4 linked regions of the Homo sapiens genome follow. The protein of the gene in region 4 interacts with the protein of the main gene of each other region in a pairwise test. Each region holds a gene or a part of one and is shown on either strand. Other genes may lie near its edges.

Region 1 (3,888 bases), on a different chromosome or scaffold from region 4:
CACTCCAGCCTGGGCTGGGCAACAGAGTGAGACTCCGTCTCAAAAAAACAAACAAAAAAACCTACATATTGGGTACAGTGCAAGATGCTTGGGTGATGGGTGCACTGAAATCACCACTAAAGAACTAGTTTCCCAAAAACTATTGAAAAAAAAAGTGGCAGCTAAATTAGGCCCTAAAGAATGGTTAGGATTTTCACATGTAAAGATTACAGGCCGGGCATGGTGTCTCACGCCTGCCATTTTAGCACTTTGGGAAGCCAAGGCAGGAGGACTGCTTGAGCCCAGAAGTTCGAGACCAGCTTGGGCAACATGGCAAAACTTCGTCTCTACAAAAAATACAAAGAATTAGTCAGGCGTGGTAGTGTGCACCTGTAGTTCCAGCTACTCAGGAGGCTGAGGTGGGAGGATCACCTGAGCCCCAGGAGGTCAAGGCTGCAGTGGGCTGAAATCACGCCACTATACTCTAGCCTGAGCAACAGAGGGAGACCCTATCTCGAAAAACAACAACAACAACAAACATTACAGATAGGAAGGCATTCCAGATGGAGGTAACTGTACAGAAGTATGGAGGTTGAAAGAAAGCACTATGTCTAAAGCAGGGTTTCTCAATCTCAGCACCGCTACCATTTTGGGCCTGATAATTCTGTTGTGGGGGGAAGGGGGGGTTTGCCTGCACATTTCTGTACACTGTAGGAGGTTCAGCAGTATACCTGGCCTCTACCCACTAGATGTCAAGCAGTAGCCCCCAGGTTGTAACCACCAAAAAAGTCTGTAGACATTGTCAGATGTCCCCTGGTGAGTGGCGGTACAGGGCAATATCTCCTCTGACTGAGAACCTCTGGCCTTTCTAGGAAAGAAATTAAAATATATTTGTTGTCATGTCAAAAGAAGTGTAAAGAGGCTACTACTTGCTCTATGTATAATGCAAAGGATACCTAGTCAAGTTCTTTCTTGGAGGAAATAACTATCAGAAAGCCACAGCAGTACATGATTTTATGAATGAAATCAATGTCTCTATGACTCTTCTGAGGGAAGCTAAAACAATTCTTATTCTGGAAAACCCTGTATAGTCAAGAGAGTTAAGCAAAACACACAACACATTACAAGCTTTTATGTAAAAGTAATTTTACCTTGTCTTGCTGTGTATTCATTGTCTTCAATTAACCTTGCTAAACCAAAGTCTGCTATTTTGCACACAAGATTTTCTCCTACAAGAATATTAGCAGCCCGAAGATCTCGGTGAATATAGTTCATTCTTTCAATATATGCCATACCATCAGCAATCTTGGAAAGAGAAAAACAAAAAACACAAGACATACGATACAAAGGGAAGCAGAGAGAAGACAATTATGGTTAATATCAAATTGTGTCACTGAAAATCATATTATTTTAGAAGGAGATGATGGTAACAGGGTATAGTCTAGAAGATAACAGGAAAACCAGAAAACATAATAAAAATGCAGGCTAAATTCAGATTTCAAAAATCTAACACTGGCTGGGTGCGGTGGCCCACACCTATAATCCCATTAATTTGGGAGGCCGAGGCAGGTGGATCATTTGAGGTCATGAGTTCGAGATCAGCCTGGCCAACACGGTGAAACCCTGTCTCTATTAAAAATACAAACATTAGCTGGGTGTGGTGGCACATACCTGTAGTCCCAGCTACTTGGGAGGCTGAGGCAGGAAAATCACTTGAACCCAGGAGGCAAAGGTTGCAGTGAGCCAAGATTGTGCCACTGCACTCCAGCCTGGGAAACAGAGCGAGACTCAGCCTCAAAAAAAATAAAACCTAACATTACTCTGAAGACCAAGATTAACCCTCCTAATGTCTTCTTGTGTCTGTGGTTAGGAGAAGAGGTAAATCACAAGGTAATTTAGTACCTCTGGATACAAGCTCATCAAGGTCTCTATCAGGCACAACCTAAGATGACATGGTGATAAAGGTATTAACCACAAGGTATAGGTTCCCAAACTACAGCTTGTAGGCCAAAAGTGGCCTGCAGCCTGTTTTTGCACAGCCAGAGAACTAAAACTGTTTTTTACATTTTGATTGATTGACTGAGACGGGGTCTCACTCTGTCACGCAGGTTGGCGTGCAGTGGTGCAATCGTGGCTCACTGCAATCTCTATCTTCTGGGCTCAAGCAATTTTCCCACCTCAGCCTAGTGAGTAGCTGGGACTTAGGCATGCGACACCACACCCAGCTAATGTTTGTATTTTTTTGTAGAGATGGGGTTTCACTATGTTGCCCAGGCCCCGCAAAGCGAGATTATAGGAGCCATCTCGCACAGCCTGGTTTTTACATTTTTAAAGGGTTGTAAAAAGAAAAAAGTATGACAGATTGGATGTGGCTCACAAAACCTAATTTTTTTTTTTTTTTAAAAAACAAAAATGGATTGCCAACCTCCCCTACCATAGAGTGTCTAACTCAGAAGCATGAACTGGCGTGGCATATGCCTGTTGCCTATGTATAGTTTCTCAGTATAAAGCTTTTCTGAATTGTCAGATTCTGTGGACATTTGGAGGCTAGGAGGTAAGATTCCAAAACCAGCATGTCAACCAAAGCCAATAATAAGGCCTCTCAAATACCTACCACATATCTGAAGAGAAACTTTTAACAGTTTTCACTATATATTTAAAACAAAAAGTCAGAAGAGTAAAAAAGTCCCATTTTAAACTGTATATATACCATCTTAATTCTTGTGTTGGACTATAGTAAATAACAAATTCAGGCCAGGTGCAGTGGCTCACGCCTGTAATCCCAGCACTTTGGGAGGCCGAGGCGGGCAGATCACGAGGTCAGGAGATCAAGACCATCCTGGCGAACACGGTGAAACCCCGTCCCTACTAAAAATACAAAAGATTGGCTGGGGGTGGTGGTGGGCGCCTGTAGTCCCAGTTACTCGGGAGGCTGAGGCGGGAGAATTGTGTGAACCTGGGAGATGGAGCTTGCAGTGAGCCGAGATTGCACCACTGCATTCCAGCCTGGGTGACAGAGCGAGACTCCCATCTCAAAAAAAAAAAAAAAAAAAAAATTCAGCATACACTTTAGATTACTAATATTTTCTTTGGAACAGCCCTCATCCATTTTAATTTTCTTAAAATTATCTGTTGAAATATAAATACATATAGACTTTACATTTGTGGAAACATCTATTTTCTTGAGATGGAGTCTCGCTCTTGTTGCTCAGGCTGGAGTGCAATGGCGAGATCTTGGCTCACTCCAACCTCCGCCTCCCGGGTTCAAGCGATTCTCCTGCCTCAGCCTCCTGAGTAGCTGGGATTACAGGCGCCCGCCACCACGCCTGGCTAATTTTCAGTATTTTTAGTAGAGACAGAGTTTCACCATGTTGGCCAGGCTGGTCTCGAACTCCTGACCTCAAGTGACCCACCCACCTCGGCCTCTCAAAGTGCTCAGATTACAAGCGTGAGCCACCGCACCTGGCCTGGAAACATCTATTTTCTAAGAAACCGTATGATACAGGACACCACTGGACTAAGAGTTAGATAGCTGGTTCTAATACTCGTTCTGTTACTAACAAGTTTTGTGAATTTTAGATACCTCTCATCTTTTGATACTTCATTAATCTGTATCATTAAGAGCTCACATTGGATTATCTCTGACGTTCCTGCCAGTTCTAAAATTCCATTATTGGCCAGGTAATCCCAATACTTTGGGAGGCTGAGGTGGGAGGATCCTTTGAGCCAAGGACTTTGAGACTAGCCTAAGCAACACAGAGAGATCCCTGTGTCTACAAAAAAAATAATTTTTTAAATTAGCTGGGAATGGTGGCCTGTGCCTGCAGTCCTAGCTACCCAGGAGGCTGAGGCGAGAGGATTGCTAGAGCCCAAGAATTCAAGGCTCTTCAAGCACGGAGCTATCAGTGC
Region 2 (4,455 bases), on a different chromosome or scaffold from region 4:
TGAAATATATAATGATGTGCTATCAACTCCAAGCTTATATTAAATGCTAATATCTTTGTTTTAAAAGTGAATATTTTAACTTAAGGATCTTAGTAACAAATTGACAATTTTCCAGAAAACAGCATTTCTTTAGCTCTCCCTTAAGGATGTAGACTAGGCCCCCATGCCTCACACGAGCTACTGAGGTAGTGACCCTGGCAATGAAGCCACAGAGATTGTATTTTTAAAATCAGTACAAGAATAGAGGATGTCAAGGATTGGGTTTCACTTGCTCTCAAGTGTTGGCATGTTGTGTGTGTGTGTACATACACACACATAGACACTGAACCTGATCGTAGACCTGGAGGAGAGTTTGAGATGGTTATCTCACTCTACCACTTGATGACAAGTGAGTAAGTAGCCTGAGACTAAGGCAAATTCAAGGACTCTCTCAAGGTCAGACAGGTAGTTTAACTTGCTCACTCGGTTACCCAGAGCAGGGCGATGCTAAGTTTCTTCACTTCTCCATGTCCCAGTGTGCCTGGCCCGTTTGAGATATTACACACATGCTTCCTGCTTAACAACCAGTCTCCTAAAAAAAAGTTCATATTGACATGGGAAGTCTAGCAAATGCTTGAGAGATGAACCATAATTACATTACTTGGATGTGACTTTTCTAAAATGCAAGATATGATTGTTTCCTGTGAAGATGTACATGGACAGAAACAGAATGAGATGCACTTGCTGTACTGTGGTCCACTTTCATGAAAATGGTACCATGTGACTCTAAAGTAGGCAGACTTTAAAACAAAGGAGTGGGCCAGGCACGGTGGCTCACGCCTGTAATCCCAGCACTTTGCGAGGCTAAGGCGGGTGGATCAGCTGAGGTCAGGAGTTCGAGACCAGCCTGACCAACATGGAGAAACCCAATCTCTACTAAAAATACAAAATTAGCTGGGCGTGGTGGCGCATGCTTGTAGTCCCAGCTACTCGGGAAGCTGAGGCAAGAGAATCGCTGGAGCCTGGGGGATGGAGGTTGCAGTGAGCTGAGATCGTGTGATTGCACCCCAGCCTAGGCAACAAGAGCTAAACCCCGCCTCAAAAAACAAACAAACAACAACAAAAAACCCCAACAAACAAACAAAAACAAAGGAGTAAAACACACCTAACCTACTACAAATATATGGATCCAAAAAAGTGCTGACCTCTATGAGAGGCGACACAATGTTGCAATGAATTGTTATTCATCTGAACACCTATCAGACACATTTTAGTTGCGGACAAAATGACCCATCTCTTTTATCCCTGTGCCACAACATTGCTGGAAGCCCACATCTGCAAATGGCAGGGAAGCAACTCTCATTCTACACCCCCCACCCCCTACAGCCAGGACTTCAACATCACTCAATTTTGGCCCTAACCAGTGTGACTAATGATAATTGGTCATTCTCTGGAACTGGCTTCAAACCACCCACTTCATTCACCACTTCATCCACCCCAGTCATTCTTTGGACTTGGCTCCAAACCATTTTTGCTTTATTGAAATAAAGCAAAATACAACAAATTCACCCTAAAAGAATGATGATTTGCTTGTCATTAGAGAAGAAGTAAGTTTTGGGTACAGGTGGCCTTGTTGGCATGACTATGGGGCCTCCTTCCTCTGAGCAGTTAGGGAGGTCTGAGCAAATTGCTCAAGTCGGGCTACTTGTTTTAAATTTAGGTCATTAGATTCACTTTACAGTTGTACCTCAGTTTTGCTGCATGAGAAGCAGTGGTATTTACATCTGCTTAGATTTTCTCCTTAGCTTCCTCATGGATTTAAAGTAAATGAATAAGGAGAGAGGCACCTAATTTCTACCTTGGTTAAAGGGAAGTGAAAGGACAGGCGTCCCGCTCTCCCCAAGACTGGGAATGTGGAGCCTGACCAACATTTCCTGCTGCTTTGCTTGTGATTTCAGGCAAGCACAAGGAAATTGCTGGGAGAAGACACATTTCTTCTTCTTCTTCTTCTTCTTTTTTTGAGATGGAGTTTTGCTCTTGTTGCCCAGGCTGGAGTTCAATGGCGTGATCTTGGCTCACCGCAACCTCTGCCTCTCGGGTTCAAGCGATTCTCCTGCCTCAGCCTCCCGAGTAGCTGCGACTTTAGGCATGCGCCACCACGCTGGGCTGATTTTGTATTTTTGGTAGAGACGGGGTTTCTCCATGTTGGTCAGGCTGGTCTTGAACTCCCGACCTCAGATGATCCACCCGCCTCAGCCTCCCAAAGTGCTGGGATTACAGGTATGAACCACAGCGCCCGGCCAAGAAGACACATTTCTAAACCCAACTCAGCCTTTTGTAGAGTCCAGTTTTCTTTCTACACTTGAGAGGGCCTCAGAAACCCAGAAATTTTGCGGGTATGTGTGTGTGTGTGTGTGTGTGTGTGTGTGTGTGTGTGTGTGTGTGTGTGTGTATGGTCCGTCCGCAGACTCTTCAAGAACTCGAATGCCATTCTCCCTCCTTCGGATGGACAGCGCCCCGCGTGCCCGCACACACCCGGTTCACTTACCTGAGGCATCTGCGGATCGTTGATGTCCCAGCTGAGCTGCATCCCGTAGGAGCACACGCCGACCGCTTCCTGCACCGCGGCCGCCGGCATCTGCCCAACTCGCTCGCGCTTTCCGCCCAGGGTTCTGAAAAATAGAAGAAAAAAGGACAGGTGCGCCAGGTGGGTTTTTTTTCTTCTCTTTAAAGAAGAAAGTGGGGTGTGTGAAGGGGAGGTGCAGAGAGAGAGAAAGAGAGAGAGGCTGTTTAGATATCTGGAAGCTGGGGACAATGGTTATGGACCCGGGCGGGGCCTTGTCCTTGGCCGCGGTGCTGAACGTTCTCCACCCGAACGGCAGCATCGACCTCTGGCAGCTGCCCCCTCCTTTATAAAGATATACCTCCGGGGGGCTCCGCCCTGTCTCGCCTACCTCGCTAGCGCCCACGCTCCAGGGGCCGGTCGCCCCCTCCACCACAGTCCCAGGAACGGAGGTGGAGGTTAAACTCAGCCCTGGAAGCAAATGGAAACTGCAGCCAGAGGGTGGGGGTGGAGAGGGTAAGTAGGAATGTATCCTTTAAGTTTAAAACCTTATTATTTTCTTCTTTTCTTTTCTTCTTTTTTGTCTCACTCTGTTGCCCAGGCTAGAGTGCAGTGGCGCCATCTCAGCTAACTGCAACCTCTGCCTCCCAGGTTCAAGCGATTCTCCTGCCTCAACCTCCCGAGTAGCTGGGAATACAGGTCCGTGCCACCACCCTGGCTAATTTTTGTATTTTTAGTAGAGACAGGTTTTAGCCATGCGAAACCCTGACCAAGCTGGTCTTGAACTCCTGACGATCTGCCCGCCTGGGCCTCCCAAAGTGCTGGGATTACAGGCGTGAGCAACCGCGACCGGCCTATTTTTTTTCTTTTTTCTAAACGCGTCCAGCTTCCCTGATTTCGGAAAGGGGCTTAGATGGAGGCTTTCCAGCAAAGTCCCCTGAGAGCCAACACTCAATTCCAGGAGAGCATGGGAACCGTGCGTGGGCCCCTCTGCCGTCCGCGTGCGCCCTAGCCTGAATAACCGCGCCCACGCCTCCTAGTTAGGGGTCAGCCCATTTTGGGCCTCCACTGCCGGCTCTTCCCCTAACTATTGTGAGTGTCTCGCAGTCTTGGCTCTGCTGTTTGGGACGTGCCAGGGTGCGCCAAGCCTCCGCGTATGCTCGCGAGCCCAGGCGCCTTCACGCTCCCGGGGACTTCGGAGGGACCTGGCCCTGCAGGAACGGAGTCCTACAAAGTGAACCTGGAGGAGGTGGGGGGCGGAAATGAGCCCGGGGTAGGTGGGAGCCTGGGGTAGGTGGGAGCCTGGGGAAGGAGGGAAAGGGGAGAGGGGAAAAGTCCCAAAGAACTCGCTTTCTCCACTGCTTTGGCTCCCTCTGGGTCTCAGCTTCCTTATCTGTTTATCTGTTAAATAAGAGGTTGTGGTTCGGCGAGCTCTCAGTTGCCACCCACCCGAACACAAATCTTTTTTTTTTTTTTTTTTTTTGAGACGGAGTCTCACTCTGTCTTCCCGGCTGGAGTGCAGTGGCGCAATCTCGGCTCACTGCAACCTCCGCCTCCCAGGTTCAAACGATTCTCCTGCCTCAGCCTCCCGAGTAGCTGGAACTACAGGCGCGCCATCGCGACCAGCTAATTTTGTATTGTTAGTAGAGACAGGGTTTTACCAAGTTGGCCAGGATGGTCTCGATTTTTTGACTTCGTGATCCTCCTGTCTCGGCCTCTCAAAGTGCTGGGATTAAAGGCGTGAGCCACCGCGCCCGGCCCACAACTCTTAAAAAAAAACTTCACTGATATAGTCTTGGAAATATCACGACGAAATTGAATTTACTCCATTACAGTCTTGGGAGGCTTTGGAGGACTAGAGAATCGCGGTGGTGCGGAGGTGCGCAGGACAATGTGGGTTCTCCGGGGCTGGG
Region 3 (3,888 bases), on a different chromosome or scaffold from region 4:
TCCTGACCTCGTGATCCGCCTGTCTCGGCCTCCCAAAGTGCTGGGATTACAGGCGTGAGCCACCGCGCCTGGCCAAGGCAAATAAAAATTGACAGAATTCAGCACCAGCAGACCCACACTCATATTCTTCAGGCAGAAGGCAAATTATCCCAAGTAAAAAGTAGAAAAAATGCAGGAAGCCCAACAAAAAGGATAAATATATAAATAAAACTAAGCAAATGTTGGTGTTACCAGGCATTAGAAATGATGTCTTTCTGGGTTTAAAATGTACTGAGGGAGTTGCCAGGTGTGGTGACTCATGCCTGTAATCCGAGCACTTTGAGAGGCTGAGGTGGGAGGATCCCTGGAGCCCAGCCCAGGAGTTCGAGAGCCTTAGCAACACATACCCATCTCTACAAAAAATACCAAAATAAATTAGCTGGGCGTATGGGCACATGCTTGTAGTCCCAGCTACTTGGGAGGCCGAGGTGGGAGATCACCTCAACCCGGGAGGCCGAGGCTGCAGTGAGCCAAGATCACACTCCAGCCTGGGTAACAAAGTGAGACACTGTCAAAAAAAAAAAAAAATTAAAGTTTCACAACAAAAAAGATAAACATACTTCATTTTGACAAGTTCAATCAGAAAATTAAATGTTCCAAAATACATAGGTACCTAATATAGTTTCAAGAAATATAAAAGCAATACCCAGAGATTCGAGTGAGACACAGACAAACCCATAATCTTTGTCAGAAATGGAATTTCACCTGTCACTCGCTGATTTAACCTTCACTTCTTCCCTGACCCACACCCAGAACCAGGCACCCTCCAGAGCTGGCCCATCTCCCCTCCAGCCCCTGCCTCCCTGCCCGGCAACACCCCGGGAGCTCCAGCGAGTCTCTGGCCGCTCCAAGCGCTCTGAGGGCACCAGCCTGTCCCACTCTGGCCATTTCAATGCCGCTCGGACAGAGCCTGGTGGGTTCATAAGCCGGTGCATACCCCCACCCTGCACGTGCTCTCCCGGGTCGGCGCCCAGTCTGGTCTGGGACCCGCATCCTCGCGCTGACGCCTCCTGGTGTCCCCACGGTGCTGGACGCAAGAGTGAGGTGGGGTGGGCTCACCCTGAGGCCCCAGCCTTCCAGAAACTGTGTAGAACGGGCGGAGGGCATGGTTGGTGTGGGGGTGGGCAGTGACTGTGCCAGCTGTGGCCCTGGGAACCTGACCTGGACCGTCTGGTGGAGGTGGACAGCCACCACCTTCTTCATGCAGTCTTTGATCATCTGGGAGGTGAAGAAGTTGGCCTCGCCCTTCTTGTCTACGGCGATCTTGCGGTAGTCCTCCAGCAAGATGGGGCAGATGGCCTGGGTGGGGTGAGTCATGTAGATGGGCCCGTCGTAGCCCACCATCTCGCTGAAGTAGGGGAGTGCCCCGCAGTGGTCCAGGTGGAAGTGGCTAGGGGGACGCAGCACAGGTCAGCCTGGGCCCACCCTGCCCCAGCCTTCACCCCCGCTCTGGGCTTGTGGGTCACTGGCCCCTTCATTCGCCTGCTGTGCGCCAGGCCTCATCCCGAGTACCGAAGAGTCAGTAATGAGCAAACACAAAACTGTCTCCCTGGAACTTTCAGTCTCAAAGTCTAGCAAGGCAATAAGCAAACGGGAAATTGAACACGTCGGTGACGGCGACATGCTCGCGAGACAATGCAAAGCTGCTGAGGGAACCGCGCATAGGGGAGCCGCTGGCTTTTCAGGCAGTCAGGACAGGCTGAGTGGAGCTGCAGGTGAAGGTGGCACAGACCTGAGGGCAAGGGCAGCGCCTGGCAAGCCCCAGGAAGGCACTGGGGACCCCACCGTGTCTGAGAAGAAACCACAACCACGAGGGGCTCAGGGGCAGCTGAGGACACTGCCTCCGGAGAGGAGAAGGGGCTTCTCCAGGCTTCACGGGCCTGGCTGCTGGGGAGGACAGGGCAGGGAAGGGCAGGGGGCCAGCAGGAGTGCTGTGGCCGTCCAGACGAGGCCACCCAGACCAGCGGGTCATGAGCTGCTGAACCCTAAAGGCTGGGGTCAGGGCAGACTCGGGACTCTGGAATCGCCAACAAGACAGTGGGGTTTAAAGATCCTGAGACAGTGAAGGCATCAGAGAGGGTGAAGCCTGGAGGGCCGGGTTCAGAAAGTAGGGTTCAGAGGGCAGGGCCGGAAGAACAGACAGAGACCAGGCCATGTGTGTGACCAGTAAGGCAGGCAGGGAGCAGATCCTGGGGCCTAGAAGCCCCCTGAGGATCAAGGATGGCACAGGCCCCTTGCCAAACGCTGCCGAGACCAAGCAAGGTGGCCCAAGCCCCACAGGCACAGACATGGGACCCTCAAGGCCCCCAACAGGAACCCACCTAATGATCACACAGTCCAGGAAGTCTGTTAGGCGGCCGTTCTGGGTGATGTAGGAGAAGTCAGGGAAGCGTCGCTAGGAAGGATGTGGGGGTTTCAGGTTGCACAGTGGTCTCCAGGCAGCATCTGGGGCCACCCATGCCCCAGGGAGGGGCCCCCAGGAAGGGGGGTTCTATGTGCAGACTCAGGCTGGGCACTCCCATCCCGCAGGTGGCACCAGGACCCCTGGCTGCTCACAGCATCCGGAGGGGCCGAGGTTACCCCCAACCTCACTGACAGATGTGAGCTGGAAGCTGAGCCCAGGGTCTCACGGAGTCCAGCCTACAGGACCCCGGGGCTGGGGCTCAGCGCCAGCACAGGGGGACCCCACCATGCAGGGGCTCACCTCGGCCAGGCCCACCCATCCCTGCTCCCCACAGGGTGCAGCCATCCAAGCACAACCACTGCTGCCCACCACCCCACTGTCCCGGCTCTGAGGCCCAGGGTCCAGCTGTGGATGGCCGGCTCTCCCAGCCTCTGGGCCTCCTGCCCAAGGGACTCACGTCGTCATTGAAGCCCATGTGCATTCCACAGTCCAGCATGACATTCTTGCCCGCAATGGAGACCAGGATGCAGCTTCGGCCCACGTCCTGGCCGGCCCCTACTCGAGGGAGGGCAGATGAGTCACTGCTGCGCCCCCCGCCCCCTGTGCTGCCTCCCCAAGCTCTGCAGGACCCCAGTGCACTGAGGAAACCGGACCAAGTCTGCTGTGTGGACAGACACATGGGCCAAGAAGCAGGGCCACCCCTACTCACAGGAAGGGGGACACAGGGGACCATGCCCCACACCATCATGTCCAGGGTGGAGGCTGGCAGCCCACACGCCCTCCCCCGCCAGCTTCCCCTGGCCTCTTAAGGTGGCCACGGCCTGCTGGCTAAGTAGTGGGCACTGTGCTGTGGCCCTCAGCCTCCAACAGAGACAACGGCTGGTCTGTGGGGCCAACACCTCGGTCAGAGTCACTCCTGGGCTGTGGCTGGACCCCCAGCAGAGCTGCAAACCAATGAGGCCACCTTCTCCAGGATCTTTCCCCAGGCAGGCAAGGCAGTAAGTGACTAAGTGCTGGCACTGGGTGTTCTCTGGTGGTGCGGCTGTGGAGGGGCGCCACACAGCCTCAGCCATGCCATAGCGAACACGGTGCCAGTGGTCCAGCAGTGGCCAGCGTGGCAACACGAGCCTCACACCACTGCACACCATGCAGCCCCCAACACAGACCCTCATCTGCAGCCCTCCCACACTCCTGACAGCCAAGCAGCCCTGCCCAGCTGCTCCAGCCAGAGGCCTTGGCCAGCCAAGGCACACTCAGCCCCCTCATGTGGCCTGGGGGCCCGAGAGGAAAGGGTCACGGCCCCTGCACAGACTGTGCCTGGGCAGGAGTCTGATGGCAGTGAACAGTTTTCCCCTTGAATCCCACCCACCTCCCCCTGCCAGCCACTCGAAGTGTCCAAAGCCAGCACCACACATCAGGATGACGGGGCCACAGCCGAGGGGCTG
Region 4 (5,276 bases):
CCACCCTGCTGTGATTCTGAGGCTGGAGAATTCCTTAGTTCTGAGCCCCAAGAGAGAAATGCCCCTCAAGCAGCTGGACCTGAGGCTGATTGGCAGCACTGAGCAGGGCCAGATTCCCCTCTCTACCACTGTCCTCTTCCCAAGCCCAATGAGCAAGAGGGGAGGCCGCCTGGCCTTCTGGCCAGTCACAGACCCTGGGCACCTGGAGCAAAACATGGAGCCCAGGAGACACACATCTAAGAGCTGCCACAGACACAGGCACGCGGCCTGCCATGGCCGGGTGGCACAGCACCAGACTGTGAGCATCACATGGGGGTCTCAGGCCCCACTCTGCCACTAGCTGTGACTGCCACCAATCTGCTTTGCCTTTCTGGGTTTCAGTGAGCCCCTCTATAAGTAGTTACTTCTCTCACAGGGTTGTGAGGAAGAAGGAAGAAAGGGGATGTGTATTAAAGATTACATTCAGAAGGCACTGTGAATAGTGCTTTGGGTTGCCAGGCCACCTTACAGACAGCTTTATCCAGGTCCCGTCCCACTGTGGAATGCCCTGTCATCTCGTTCCTCAAATGCGTGGAGCTCCTGCTCTCTGCCTGGCAGCGGCAGAGTGCTAGAACTGCTCCCCAGCCAAGCTCATTCATTAATTCAACAGCTCCGCACCGCTCCTGGGCAGGTACCCGGGATTTAGAGATGAATTAGACTCATCACCTGCCCCAAGGGCTCTGGCTAGTGGGGAGACAGATATGTCACTGAGGAAGTGACACAGTAATACGAGACGGAGCTCAGGGAAGCTTCCGGGAGCATCACCAAGTTGGGCAGAGAGGAATGAGCGGGTGGAAAGCCAGAAGTAGGTTGGTGGGGAGTTCTCAGCAAGGAGGAAGTAGGGGCCAAGGGCCTGACAGACAGCAGCAAACTCCCCCTTGGCATCCAGACAAGTCATTCTCTCCCCGAGGGGCAGCAGAGGTCCCAGGAGGGCCACAGGCCAGTGCCCCCAAGCAGACAGGACACACACACACACACACACACAGTGGCACCTTACAGCTAGACACACACACACACAGCAGCACCTTACAGCTAGAGACACACACCCACACACAGACACACACAACAGCAGCTCAGAGCCAGAGAGGAAACCAAGTCCGCAGGTAAAAATTATACTTTTATTTGAGTCACCAGGAGAAAGATTCACTTGTGGTTCAAGTCAAATGTTCAGAATCATAACAGGCCAGAAAGGTTTGATCCCGAGCACAAGCCCACGAGGGAGGGGACCAAAACAGACCAAAATGAGACAACAACCCCATATAAAAAGATGAACTGGCGGCTTCACACACTCACACACATACACATACACACGGATGAAATGTTTGGACAGAGGCAAATTTCACGTGGTCATTTCTGTTTCTTTTTAAATACAGGTTTGTAGGGTGGTATTTTGTTTTTTCCAGCTATAAAAAAAGGCCCAAAAGTGCATGTGTGAGGGGGGAAAGGCAGAAATTAAGCAATAAAGTCATTTTCCCTGGAGGGACATGAGAGGGAGAAAACAGGAGGCAGTGCTGGGAGAACGCACTTTCCTCACCACTGGGCTTCTTGTTATTCTTAGTATTGGTCCACAAAAGTTATATTCACATTCTAGCTTTGATGCCTCTTTCCTGGGATTAAATGAGCTGAAAGACCTCTGTGAACTGTAGAGAAGACCAGGGGCTCAGCCCAGCCCAGCCCAGCCCCTCAGGGCTCTGTGCTCTTCTAGGGATGGATGGTTTTGGTAAAGAACAGACGCCCAGCAGCCCCCGGTCACTCAGCACCAGTGTGACAGTCCCTCCTCTCTCTGGGGGTGTGTAAGAAAACGGCCCCTATTTTTAGGACAGGAAGAGTAGAGGGAGGGCCTGCAGCAAGATTCCATGACTGGCTTGCCTTATCTGGGAAGGAGAATTAAGCTGAGTGAAAACAGGCTGCTTCTTGCTGCTCCTCCCTTCCACTCACCACTCTCCCAAACTCAGGTCCTCTAAGGGGATGTGTCCCTGACCTTTGGTCCCCAAATCCACATTGTGCTTTGAGATCAAGAGGAAACAGAATGCACCAGCGCCACCCAAGACTCCCAAGAGATTCTCTGCCTCCCCGAGCCCCCAAATCGCCCAATATAAGATATTCCACTTGCCTCCACCTAGGCTGGGGCCAGAAAGGAAAAGGGATGGGTCAGGCAGGGCCTCCCCACCCACAGTCTTTTCCTCAACCTCTCATTCGGGGCAAACATCCCCAAATCAATTAACAAGCAGTTGACAAAAACACCCATGATGACTGATTGTTGAACAGGCCAATACCTTCAGGTCCTGCCCCTCACCTGTGGGTACAAGTGTGCCAAGGGACAAGAGGCCAATGGCAGGGCCTGGTTGGGCTCAGGATGAAAATGGGATGGGGACTCCCAGAGGGTGGCAAGAAAACCAGAGATGAATCAAGTGAGGCCAGGGTTGTCACAGCCACCCATGAGCAGAGAGCAGGAACTGGATATAGCACCGTCTTTCCCTCCCCATCCCCGAGGCTGTGCTTCCAGTTTTGCAGCCCTGGGACCCTCTTTCTTGCTTCAAGGGAGCTTTATGTAAGTGAGGGGGAGGTCTAGGGGAAGAGCCCCCGAGGGAGACACCCACAGGGTGACACTTCTGCCACCCTATTCTGTAGCCCCAGACAGAGATGGGGAAACATATGCCTGGAGTGACAGAGCCTTCCTCCACCGCTTAGCCCCAGCAGGCTGCAGACCCTATGGCAGCCCCAACTCCACACCAACCTCTTACCTTCCACCCTGCACACTGCAAAGGGCAGATTGGTGGGCTTCCTCCACTCAGAGATGGGGGGAAGGAGGAATTTCATTCCAAAGAAAACCTAAGGAACTTCTCTGCCCCAGGAGCCCTCCCCTCTCACTGTGGGTTCTGAGGAAACTCTCAGGGGAAGACAGCTCTTCATACCCTCACATAACCCCACCCACACACAGGCCCAGAGACACCTACAGACACACCCCCGCCCCATCTCTCACACTCACACTCACACACTTGCGTGTCAGACACCTGCAGACATACATGCTCCTGCCTCCGCACACCAGGTCTTGGAGATTTAGTGGTCCCTGCTGACTTTGTGCAGCTCCAAGTCCACTTGGCATTGGGCTGGGGAGGGGAGGTCATGGAAGGCTCTGAGACATCTTCCCATGAGGAGCAGGGAGGAGCGGCCACCTAACCCAGATCCTGGGGGCTGAGGGAGGCTGAAGACCAAAAGGTCCTGAGGCACCCTTGCCCTACACTTCGGGACCATGGCTTCCAGCCTAGGAGGCAGGCAAGGGTCCCTGGAGACTGGGGGTGGGCGTGGGGAAAGGGGCTGCGGAAGAGAACTCCTTGTTCCCCTCCTTCCGGTAGCTGTCCCTAAAATTAAGAAAGGCAAGAACCTGACCCAAGCTGTGCTTCCTCGGGAGCTCTTTGCCCGCTGCAGGTCTGCGTGGGCAGGAGGGCAAAATCACAGTGTGCGAAGGAACGCGCGGGGAGGGGATGAATTCGCCCCACAGCAGGAACCCCATTCTCCTGTTGTTGCCCCTGAGGAGGGAGGTAGGGAGAGAGACCCCAGGTGGGCAGAGCCCCCTCTTTGAGAAAGAGAGGTAGAGCCCATCCCACTGGTCCCTACACAGCGGCAGAGTCCCCATCGCCATCCCAGGAACCAAGAAGTGGATCCCACTCTGGGGAATGTAGGGAGCCCCTGACCTGGGGTCCTGGCAGTCAGGCTCACCCCAGCCCTGGAATGTGTGGGTATGTGAGGAGCTGGGCAGGAGGATGTGAGGGGAGAGAACAGAGGGGCAGGTGAGGCCCACAGGCCAACAGGTCTCCCATTCCAGCCCTGCCTCCCCCAGAGAGGCCCATGCCCGTTCCATCCAGAGAGAAAACCAAGAAGTCGATCAAGGGGGAAGCCTGCCAGAGGAGGGAGCCCGCAGAAGTGGCAGAAGAAGGCTTCAGTTGGCAAAAGAAGCTGGAAGAGGGGTAGGAATCACAAGCTGTCGCAGGTTTTAAAAAACAGAGACACTGAAGAATGGACGGGTCACGCCCAGGACGGATGCGATGCCGTGGAATGTGCTGAAGACAGATGGGGGCGCTGCGGGTTCAGATGGCCTCCACGTAGTTGGCCGGCAGCATCCCCGTGTCGCCGGTGCGCTCCACCGTCCCGTACATCCAGCCGTCGTCGATCTGCTGCACGTTGACGATGGTGTCCCCGTCCTGGAAGGAGACCTCGTCCTCGTCGGCGGCGCTGTAGTCATACACCGCGCGGTACCGCTTCTGTGGGGGAAGTGTGGTCAGCCTAGGGCCCTGCATGCCGGCTCACCTGGGTCTGAGCATTTTTTTCTAACTCTCCACGACCCTGGAGCAGAGCCTGGGGGAGCAGTGAACTCAGAAATGGAGCACCAGGCTCTGCTGCAAAGATTCTTAACCTCTGTGTCTTGCTTTCTGAGAGCAATCGATCTTTTACAACCTTTGGCAGCTACTAAGGGCCAGAGGCAGAGCAGGGACCGGGTCACATCAGCTCTGCCCCACCTCCCTGAACAGGACTGCAGTAAGGTCCACCAGCCATGATGACAGAGTAATGTCTAAAAATACGACATGCAGGCCAGGTGCAGTGGCTCACGCCTGTAATCCCAGCACTGTGGGAGGCCAAGGCAGGAGAACTGCTTGAGCCCAGAAGTTTGAAATCAGCCTGGGAAACACAGTAAGACCCCCCAACTCCCTCTTTTTTTTTTTTTTTTTGAGATGGAGTCTTGCTTTGTCACCCAAGCTGGAGTGCAATGGTGTGATCTTGGCTCACTGCAACATCCGCCTCCCGGGTTCAAGCGATTCTCCTGCCTCAGCCTCCCAAGTAGCTGGGACTATAAGCGTGTACCACCATGCCCGGCTAATTTTTGTACTTTTTTGTAGAGACAGGGTTTCATCATGTTGGCTACGATGGTCTCAAACTCCTGGTCTCAAGTGATCCGCTCGCCTCGGCCTCCCAAAGTACTAGCGTGAGCCCATCTCAACAAAAAATAAAAAATTAGTTAGGCTTAGTGGTACATGCCTGTAGTCTCAGCTACTCAGGAGGCTGAGGTGGGAGGATGGCTTCAACCCAGGAGGTTAAGGCTGCAGTGAGCTAGCTGTGATTGCACCACTGCTGCACTCCAGCCTGGGCAGCAGAGCAAGACCCTGTCTCAAAAAAGAAAAAAAAAACAGAAAAAACATGCCCTGTATGCTATTATTTGTATGATTATAAGCACCAGTAGT

Evidence for each region.
Region 1: the proteins of LASP1 (region 4) and YES1 interact in binary tests that used the Homo sapiens proteins (3 or more experiments, as listed by UniProt).
Region 2: the proteins of LASP1 (region 4) and GCM2 interact in binary tests that used the Homo sapiens proteins (3 or more experiments, as listed by UniProt).
Region 3: the proteins of LASP1 (region 4) and INTS11 interact in binary tests that used the Homo sapiens proteins (3 or more experiments, as listed by UniProt).

What each region holds. Positions count from the first base shown.
Region 1 is NC_000018.10:735,678-739,565, forward strand, and holds part of YES1 (tyrosine-protein kinase Yes), read right to left. Parts: intron 1,285-3,888; coding exon 1,131-1,284; intron 1-1,130. UniProt on the Homo sapiens protein: Non-receptor protein tyrosine kinase that is involved in the regulation of cell growth and survival, apoptosis, cell-cell adhesion, cytoskeleton remodeling, and differentiation.
Region 2 is NC_000006.12:10,879,177-10,883,631, forward strand, and holds the start of GCM2 (chorion-specific transcription factor GCMb), read right to left. Parts: upstream 2,866-4,455; 5' UTR 2,618-2,865; coding exon 2,528-2,617; intron 1-2,527. UniProt on the Homo sapiens protein: Transcription factor that binds specific sequences on gene promoters and activate their transcription. Through the regulation of gene transcription, may play a role in parathyroid gland development.
Region 3 is NC_000001.11:1,318,096-1,321,983, forward strand, and holds part of INTS11 (integrator complex subunit 11), read right to left. Parts: coding exon of another isoform or gene 3,813-3,888; intron 2,999-3,812; coding exon 2,901-2,998; intron 2,435-2,900; coding exon 2,361-2,434; intron 1,430-2,360; coding exon 1,201-1,429; intron 1-1,200.
Region 4 is NC_000017.11:38,917,630-38,922,905, reverse strand, and holds the end of LASP1 (LIM and SH3 domain protein 1), read right to left. Parts: intron 4,302-5,276; coding exon 4,128-4,301; 3' UTR 1,136-4,127; downstream 1-1,135. UniProt on the Homo sapiens protein: Plays an important role in the regulation of dynamic actin-based, cytoskeletal activities.